Regions from separate parts of the Homo sapiens genome. Here region 2 is linked to region 1. The links come from fine-mapping of genetic effects on gene expression. A gene starts in region 1. The other region holds a variant in brackets. All regions are shown on one strand. Distances are from middle to middle.

Region 1 (4,400 bases):
AGCCACTGACTAACTCACCTTTGTATTCAATTCCTAAGTCATTTTGTCTTGTGGGGGAAGGGCATGTTTTCTAAATTTATAACTTCAGTATGATTTTTAGTGAGGAATAGACTCCCTGACTCAACTACTAATTGTGTGTTTGGGAAACTCTTTTATTCTTCTTCTGTACAAGCACCAGAAAAGGTATTTTTATTACTTCCTTTTCTTATTCCTCTCCACTGGTAAAACCAGTTGCCTGTTACCCTACCAATTACAATTCTGGATATGGGAAATTAATTTTTAAAAAAGAAACCCAAGAGTTGAACAGCTTCTTGTGATTAAAATAACACCTCTAATCTTACACCAGTTTAGCAATCTCCGTTCCTTTGCTTCCTGGGACTTGCCCCAAACCTGAGTTCCCTGAAACTTGAGGACCAAGTCCCCAAGCATGGGTTCATCAGTCTCAGGGTTTACCGGAATCTCCCTGGGAGAGCTCTGAGAGTTTTATCACCTTGGAAACACAACAGCAGGCTCCCTGAACGTGCATAGAAAGAGTATTTTTTAAAGCACCATGAGAAAACAGTGTTTAGTTACCCCCAAATGTAAGAGTCACGATTCAAAACTGTCACCGACTCGGTAGCATCTTAGTCAAGAATAGTATCTTCAACTTGACAAATCACAAGTATGTGTACTTTTGCTAACCAAACCAGTAGTTGGAAAACAGCTCAAAAAATCCCATCTCCATATTTATTTTATCATTTTTTTGTTCTAAAAAATGGAATGGCTTCACTTATCAAACTTGCCAGGCCATGGCTGATATAGTCACTATATGTGTGTATGGAACAGTAAATAGTAGACATCAAGTTACCTGTGTCATTTGTAGAAATCCTGATTTTGGAAAAGGAAGTGTAAAAGATACATTCAAAGAAGACATTTTGAACCTTAAAATGGAACTGCTTGCTTTGATGCAAATGGCTATGGTGTGTGTGTGTGTGTGCGTGCGTGTGTGTGTGTGTGTGTACGCGTGTGTGTATAAGAGAGAGAGAGGAAGGAAAAGAGATGGATGAATTATTTCTTTCGGACCATCCCTTCTAGTATTACAAGTTGTGGAACCTTCATCGTTAGTATATTATCTCTGTTGAATGATAGGGTGAATGTAATCAGTTCTATTTATTCTATGTTCTGGACACGCTAAACAACATCAATCAAATGACCCCCTCCTCTTATTTCTTTCACAATAAATTCAACCACATTTATGGAGAGCCTCCTGTGCCAGGCACAGTGCTAGGTGTTGGAAACAAAGATGATTTAAGCAAGATTGAAGATTATTGCCGGTATCTTAGGATTGGAACGGGGGGCGGGGGAGCGGGGGGTGACATCCTTGCTCCCGGCTCTACCGCAGCCCGGACTGCTGTCGAGCCAGTTGTGGCGTTAGCACGCCACTGCTCCCGACTTCTGGGAACTCCCCAGCCAGCCCACGAACCTAGCGCCAGGGTTCTCTCTGCGTTGCCCAAGAGCCAAAGACTCAAGTTCAACTCCGGAGCCGCGGCGCTCACTGCGCACCGAGCGAACCCCGGGCTACGCGAAGCACCGCGCCAGGTTCCTTGCACCTATCCTCCCGCCCGTCGGAGTGCGCTCGACCCCGCGCCTGCTTACTTTGCCGCTGTCGCTCACGCCGAGGAGGTGATCCCGCAGCACCTCCATGGGGCAGGTCCAGGTGGAGTGGACGAACGTCCCTCGGAAGATGTGCGCCAGGGGCGGCATCTGAGCGGCACACATGTCAGCGGCGGAGCGCAGCGCGGGTCTGCTGGTCGAGGAGGGCGCACGCGGCGGAGACGCAGCGGGACTCTCTGCAGCTGCGGGCGGCTGCCGGGCGGACACAGGCTCCGGCCTTGTCCTGCCCCCGCTTACCCGGGCGGTTGCCGGTACCCTGCAGGCCGCGCCCAGGGGCTGGCTCCCTACCTCCTCAATGCCAATAGGATTTTTCTCCCGCGAGTTGGCTCCGCGCTCCCGTGGGGTGTGGTCTTTCTCTCCACCCTTGCGTTAGTTTTGGTTGTGTTAACTCTTTGAGTTATCAAGATCAACCACAGCTGAGGCTCAGAAGATCAGCTTCCTCCACCTTCTATGAGTTGTGTCAGCCTGGCTCCTCTGACCCTTCAACTCCTAGGATCACTTACTTCTTCAACCTGTAGCACTCAGGTCCTGTACTTGCATTAGTTCAGGCACAGGTGAAAGGTCAGCTGGGGCTGCCTACCTTATGACCAGTTTCATTTTTAGTTTATGTAGACTGCAGAATTAGTATTGGTCCTCACCTGGAAGGTTCTGGAAGCATGTCTTACCGAACATCTCTGGGGACCCCTAAACTGGGTGTCATTGTGGACGCCAAGGTTCCTCTCTTCACCTTGAGGCTAATGTTTTTGGTTCTTGTGTTTGTCCGCAAACAATTCCAATACCAATTTTTCTCGTGTAAAATGAATGAATCTCTTTTATTTACTTCCAGTTGTACAAAGGGAGAAAATTAAGTTCTCAAGTCAAATAGGCAGCAATGGTACCATGGGTGCTGAATTGGGAATCAAGAGACTGTGGACAAGACACGTGGGCCTCAGTGTGCTTATCATCCCCACTTATGAAAATGGAGCTTGGACTGGGTCATAACTAGGGTCAGCGTTCCCACCCTACACAATGACCACAGGGTCCTTCACTAAGTTCCTCCATGAAACCCAGCTGGCTTCCATTCAGGGCCCTCTAACGTGCTGTTCCTTCTGCCCCTAATCCCTCTTGTGGCGCTTTACTTGGCAGCTCTTCTCACCACTGATTTGTCTCAAATGTCAGGCTCTTCGGAGTCACCTTTCCTGACCACCAAGTGGCACCGGACTCCCAGCAGTTTCTACTCCACTAATCCATCTTGTTTCTGCCATTGCATTTATTGTGTCCATTCTTCTTTATTTTGTGTTTTTTAGTTTACTCCTGTTTCCCTCTCACCAATACACACACACACACACACACACACACACACACACACACACACATACACACACCAATAACAGAAGCACCACAGGAGCAGGGAATGTGTCTTATGCCTAGAACAATGCCGGTGTTCCATACATGTTTATTGAATAAATGAATGGATGGTTTTTCTGTGAGCAGAGCCATAACCTGAGACAAATAACTATTTTGACAACTACATAAAGGGTGAGGGTTTCATTGCAGTGTGTGAGCAGTTTTTCTCTGAATTGCTGCTTTTAAGACACAGGGCTGGCTTATAGAAATGATTCGTTCCCTTCTCAGTTCCTTCAGCTCCCCCATAACCAATGTCTAAGGTGACCAACAAATCCTGGTTTACCAGGCACTTTCCTGGTTTTAGCACTGAAAGGCCGTTCAGGAAAACCGTCAGAACCATGCACACAGATGGTTGATCACCCTACCAGGGATCCAGAATTAGGAATCTCTGCAGCTGAGGTCATTACACTTGTCCCTGCTCCTTGTCACTTTCTCCTGATTCTGCCAACTGCACTCCCTCCTGGCAGTACCGACAGCCAGCACACTGAAAACATTCCCTTGTATACACAAAAACCTCAGACAGAAAGGTGAAGAAAATGGCTTTTGAGATAGGATTCAATCAGATGTTTCCAACAGATGTATTACTTTCCTAAAACAGATACGGTTAATAATTTTTTTGATGATTAGGTTTTAATGAAAACCTAAATGTCAAAAAAAAAAAATAGAGACTAGTTTTATGAACTAGAATATATCTACTTGATAGAACATTATACAGTTATTAAAAACAACAGGAGAAATATATAGCCACAATGTTAAGCTTTCAAAAATGGCTTCTGGCTGGGCACGATGGCTCACGCCTGTAATCCCAACACTTTGGGAGGCCGAGGCGGGTGGATCACGAGGTCGAGATTGAGACTATCCTGGCCAACATGGTGAAACCCCATCTCTACTAAAAATACAAAAATTAGCTGGGTGTGGTGATGCGTGCCTGTAGTCCCAGCTACTCAGGAGGGTGAGGCAGGAAAATTGCTTGAACCCCGGAGGCGGAGGTTGCAGTGAGCTGAGATCACGCCACTGCATTCCAGCCTGGTGACAGACCAAGACTCGGTCTCAAAAAAACAAAACAAAACAAACAAACAAAAAACAGCTTCTATGCTACGATGAAAACCATGAAAAGCTATAAGCATATTTGCTGGAATTGAAAAGGTACATCAAACAATGTGTGTTGTTCTGTTGAGATAATGGAATTGCTAGGTAGAGAATTTTGTTTTGATTTTTTTAATGTTGTTACTATGTGGTTTATAGGATGAATAATCATTATGATGCTTTTAAAGAAATTAATCGTCTTAAGCAGAAGGATTGGCCATGAACCTCCAGGTGACATGGCATTAGTGCTCCTCAGGTAAATTTTAGCTCTTTTG
Region 2 (4,400 bases), 33 kb before region 1:
TGCGGTACATCCAGAAAACGGAATATTATTCAGTAATAAAAATAAATGAGCTATTAAGCCACGAAAATACATAGAGAATCTTACATGCATATTACTAAGTGAAAGACACAAATCTGAAAGAGCTTCATATTATATGATCCCAACTATATGACATTCTGGAAAAGGCAAACTATGGAGACAATAAAAAATCAGTAGTTGTCAAGGGTTGGAGGGGGAAGGATGAATAGGCAGAGCAGAAGAATTTTAGGACAGTGAAAACACTCTCTATGATACTATAATGGTCAATACATCATTATACAAGTGTCCAAAACCACATAATGTACAAATCCAAGAGTGAGCCCTAGTATAAACTGTGGACTTTGGTTGATAATGATGTGACAATGTAGGTTTATCAGTTGTTGCAAATGTAGCATTCTGGTGGGGGATATTGATAATGAGGGGGCTGTGCATGTGTCCCGGCAGGGGATACATGGGAAAGCTCTGAACCTTTCTCTCAACTTTGCTGTGAACCTAAAACTTCTCTAAAAATTAAATTTTTAAAAGATAAGTGCAAAGATTCAAGATTTGTAATAGTAATTTAATGTAATGCTTATGTTGCAAAGTGGTATAAGGTATAGACAGTCAAATCTGAATAAAGAAAATAATACTCATGGAAGGAAAAACGGTAACTTTAATAACTCTTCTGATCTCTGTAGAAGACACCACTAATAAATCATTGGTATTTAACACATTTTTATTAGAAATATAAAGCAACATATTCTAAAATGATGGGATGTCTGATAATAATAAAGAGATTAAAATATATTTCCTATGTGCCAAACACCATCCTACATACTTTACATGTGTTAACTTGTTTAAACCTCACAAGAACCCTATGAGGCACTATTACTAGCCCCATTTTGCAGAGGATAAAATTGAGGCACAGAGATGTTAAGTACCTTGCCCAAAATTACGCATCTGGCAGGTAATAAATCCTGAATTTGAACCCCAGTTGCCTACAGGCTAACGGCCATTAGACACTACGTTATGTATTTTTTCATGTAATATTTTAAAAACCAAACAGCCTTTTCCTTTTCTTTTTTTCTTTATAAACTATTTCTTTGTGCCTTTCCTTTCCTTTTCCTTCCATTCATATAGCCCCAGCAGGTGGGCCTGGTGGATCCAGGAATGCAGAGGTAGTTGGGGCTAAGGGAGCAGTCAAGGCTGAGAATGCTAATAGGGTCAGGGGAACTGGGGTTGGAGAAGTGCAGTGTCAAGGAGGCAGGTGGAATGGGCAAGGCTGTAGCCGAGGAGACAGTCCCCAGGGTCAGGAGATTGATTACATATAGGAGTAATATATATTTACATATATTTACATACATACATATACATTACATGCACACACATACTAGCTTTATCTGCTGAGAGGCCTAGAGACAATGAAACCCAGATGCAATCAGCACCCCTAGTTCTCAGATCTTGGTTTCTAAATACCATTCTCCACAAAACAGAACCAAGTGACTCCAGGGCTCATTCCAGGGCTCTGGTAAGGAAAATACAAGATGAATCTAGAACATAATTTTGTGCCAAAAGTAAGGAAGTGCTAGAATATAGTCAGAAAGTAGTCAAAAGGACAAAGAAGCCACTCTAAACAAACTCCCACTAGGTAAATCTGGG[C/G]CAATTTGAGCATCAAAATAAATAAAAATACTAACAAATTAAAATCCAAAGAATAATATGGGAATCCATGAGTCCACAATGATAAGTAAATGAATGAGTACATGAGTGAGAATGGAGAGTTCTTTCTTCCAGTGGAATACCAACTAATATATGTGGAAGAAATTACACAATTAGAAAATGAGCATTTGGCATCCATCATCATAAAAAAATGATTCATGCAAAAATCATCAATGAACACTAAAACTAGTGGGTGAAAATTTGTTGAGAAACAGGATATTTATATAATTATCAAAGTATCTCCCCACAAAGTTTATTTTACAAAGAGAAGTGCAGAAAGCTGGCCCACACCACCTCAGCCGAGTGACCAAAGTTAACATCACCAATAACGGGACAATTCCACATCCTGTGCCTCCTGATATGATGTACTGAGAGCACAGCATCATTTCTCCGATGTCCCTGCCAAAAATGCACGACCTGAATCTAATCATGAGGAAACATCAGACAAACCCAAATTAAGGGACAGTTTGAAAAAAGGAGAAACTCTTCTATATTCTTGAAAATTATCCAGAGCATGAAAGACAAAGAAACACTAAAGACCCATTACAGATGAAAGGCAACTAAAGGAATGTGATACATAAATGGAGCCTGTGGTTCTGGAGTGGATTCTGAATAAGAGGAGGGGAAATAGCCACCAAGGGCATTATTGGGCCAGTGGGCAAAGTTTGAATGGGTCTACAGATCATGTGGTAGAATTATACCTATGTTAATTTCCTGACCCAGATAATAATTCATGATTATGTAAGGCAGTGTCCTTATTTTTTAGGGAAAAAAAATAAAGTATTTAGACTCCAACAGCATGTCTATAACTTACTCTCAGTCCAGAAAAATGTGTGTGTGTGCGTGCATGTGTGTGTCTACCTATATATGTAGAGAGAGTAGAGAATAATGAAGCAAATTTTGTAAAATATTAGCACTGAGAATCCGGGTGAAGTCTATAGCAGCATTATTTTGTATATTCTTGTAACTTTTTGAATCATTTTTTAATGAATTAAAAATAAAAAATTTTAACTGAAAAACTAAACAGTATATTATTTGGAAACGCAAATATAAAAAGTGAAAGTATAGGCTGGGTGCAGTGGCTTACACCTGTAATCCCACACTTTGGGAGGCTGAAATGTGAGGATTGCTTGAGCCCGGGAGTTCAAGGTTGCAGTGAGCTACCATCACGCCACTGTGCTCCATCCCAGGTGACAGAGCAAGACTCTGACTAAAAGAAAAAAAAGAAAGTGAAAAAAGATAGTGAGGCCAGGCGCGGTGGCTCACGCCTGTAATCCCAGCACTTTGGGAGGCCAAGGCGGGTGGATCACCTGAGGTCAGAAGTTCAAGACAAGCCTGGCCAAGATGGTGAAACCCCGTCTCTACTAAAAATACAAAACTTAGCTGGGCATGGTGGCGGGCGCTTGTAATCCCAGTTACTCCGGAGGCTGAGGCAGAGAATTGCTTGAACCCAGGAGGTGGAGGTTTCAGTGAGCCAAGATCGCGCCACTGCACTCCAGCCTAAGCAACAAGTGACACACACAAAAAAAATTGTGAAAGTATAAGTAAAAGTAAGGACATGATAAGCATAAAATTTAGTATAATGGTGATAAGGGAAGGGAACGGATATTGAGAACACATAGAGCTTCAAAGATAACCACAGTTCATCACATCCTTATTCATTACACCTTACATAGACATTAGAACTGTACTTTCTTTACCCAATGAGTTAATTAAAAAGAAGAATCACTTCAAAAAAATAAGTAAAATGCACAAAGATCACCAGAAAAATGTATGAGTGAAACCAAATTTTCTACTCACAATAAATGCTATTTTTAAAAAATCAAAATCTATTTCATGTGAAATGCACACATTGGTAATCTGTGGAACACCCAAAGTGACCAAAAGGAAAAAACCACAGAAGAAGCGAAGGCAATGAGGAAACACAATAATACAGATCTCACATTTGTAGCACCTCAACACCAGCAATCTAAAACAAGGTCATAATCAGTCCCGTGTTTTGATAAGTAGTCGGTAATATGCTAAACAACCCTTGAATATACTTGAAAACTTGTGAATCACTTTGGGATGCAAATTGTTACTGCCTAATTTATTTTTTTTTCCTAAATTCAGAATCCTCTGATGCTTAACCAACTTGTGGAAGAAGGAAACTGCTTAGATGTGTGTAAAATTAACACCAAGCTCGGAGTGAAATTCACCATAAATCTCAGCTCTAAAGTTAAATGACACATTTGAATCCTGAAATCATCAAACAAGCAAATAATTTCAGCAGCTGCCTCACAAAAGACATCTTCAGAGACTACATTCAGCAAGTAGACAACTAAGAATTAATTTAGGAAAAGCACTCACTCTCTCTCTCTTTTGAAAAACTGAAAGGCAGTATCAATTGACCATAAAGTTGATCTCAATAGACTGTATCAGATACACAGACATTGATTTAAAAATGCAGGCACACACAAAAGTACTCCCTACACAAGCCTATTCCTTTGGGCCTTTGTTATTTTTATTTTTTTTGAGAGGGACTCTTGCTCTGTTGCCCAGGCTGGAGTGCAGTGGCGTAGTCTTGTCTCACTGCAACCTCTGCCTCCCGGGTTCAAGCGATTCTCTTGCCTCAGCCTCCTCAGTGGCTGGGATTACAGGCACCCACCACCATGCCTGGAAAATTTTTGTATTTTTAGTAGAGATGG

Evidence for each region. PIP is the estimated chance that this variant, and not a neighbour inherited with it, causes the effect.
Region 2: its variant is fine-mapped to the expression of GDA in skeletal muscle (GTEx, PIP above 0.99).

The regions. Positions count from the first base shown.
Region 1 is chr9:72,146,918-72,151,317 of GRCh38, reverse strand. GDA (guanine deaminase) reads right to left here and starts at 1,878. Exons shown (of 14, transcript NM_004293.5): 1 at 1,636-1,878. The coding sequence starts at 1,758. RefSeq lists enhancers at 1,178-1,677, 1,678-2,179, 3,888-4,400.
Region 2 is chr9:72,180,184-72,184,583 of GRCh38, reverse strand. The region is part of intron 1 of GDA (guanine deaminase); the gene reads right to left. Among named protein-coding and RNA genes, the nearest start is that of GDA, 33 kb to the right of the region's middle. The variant C/G (reference allele first, on the strand shown) is at 1,657.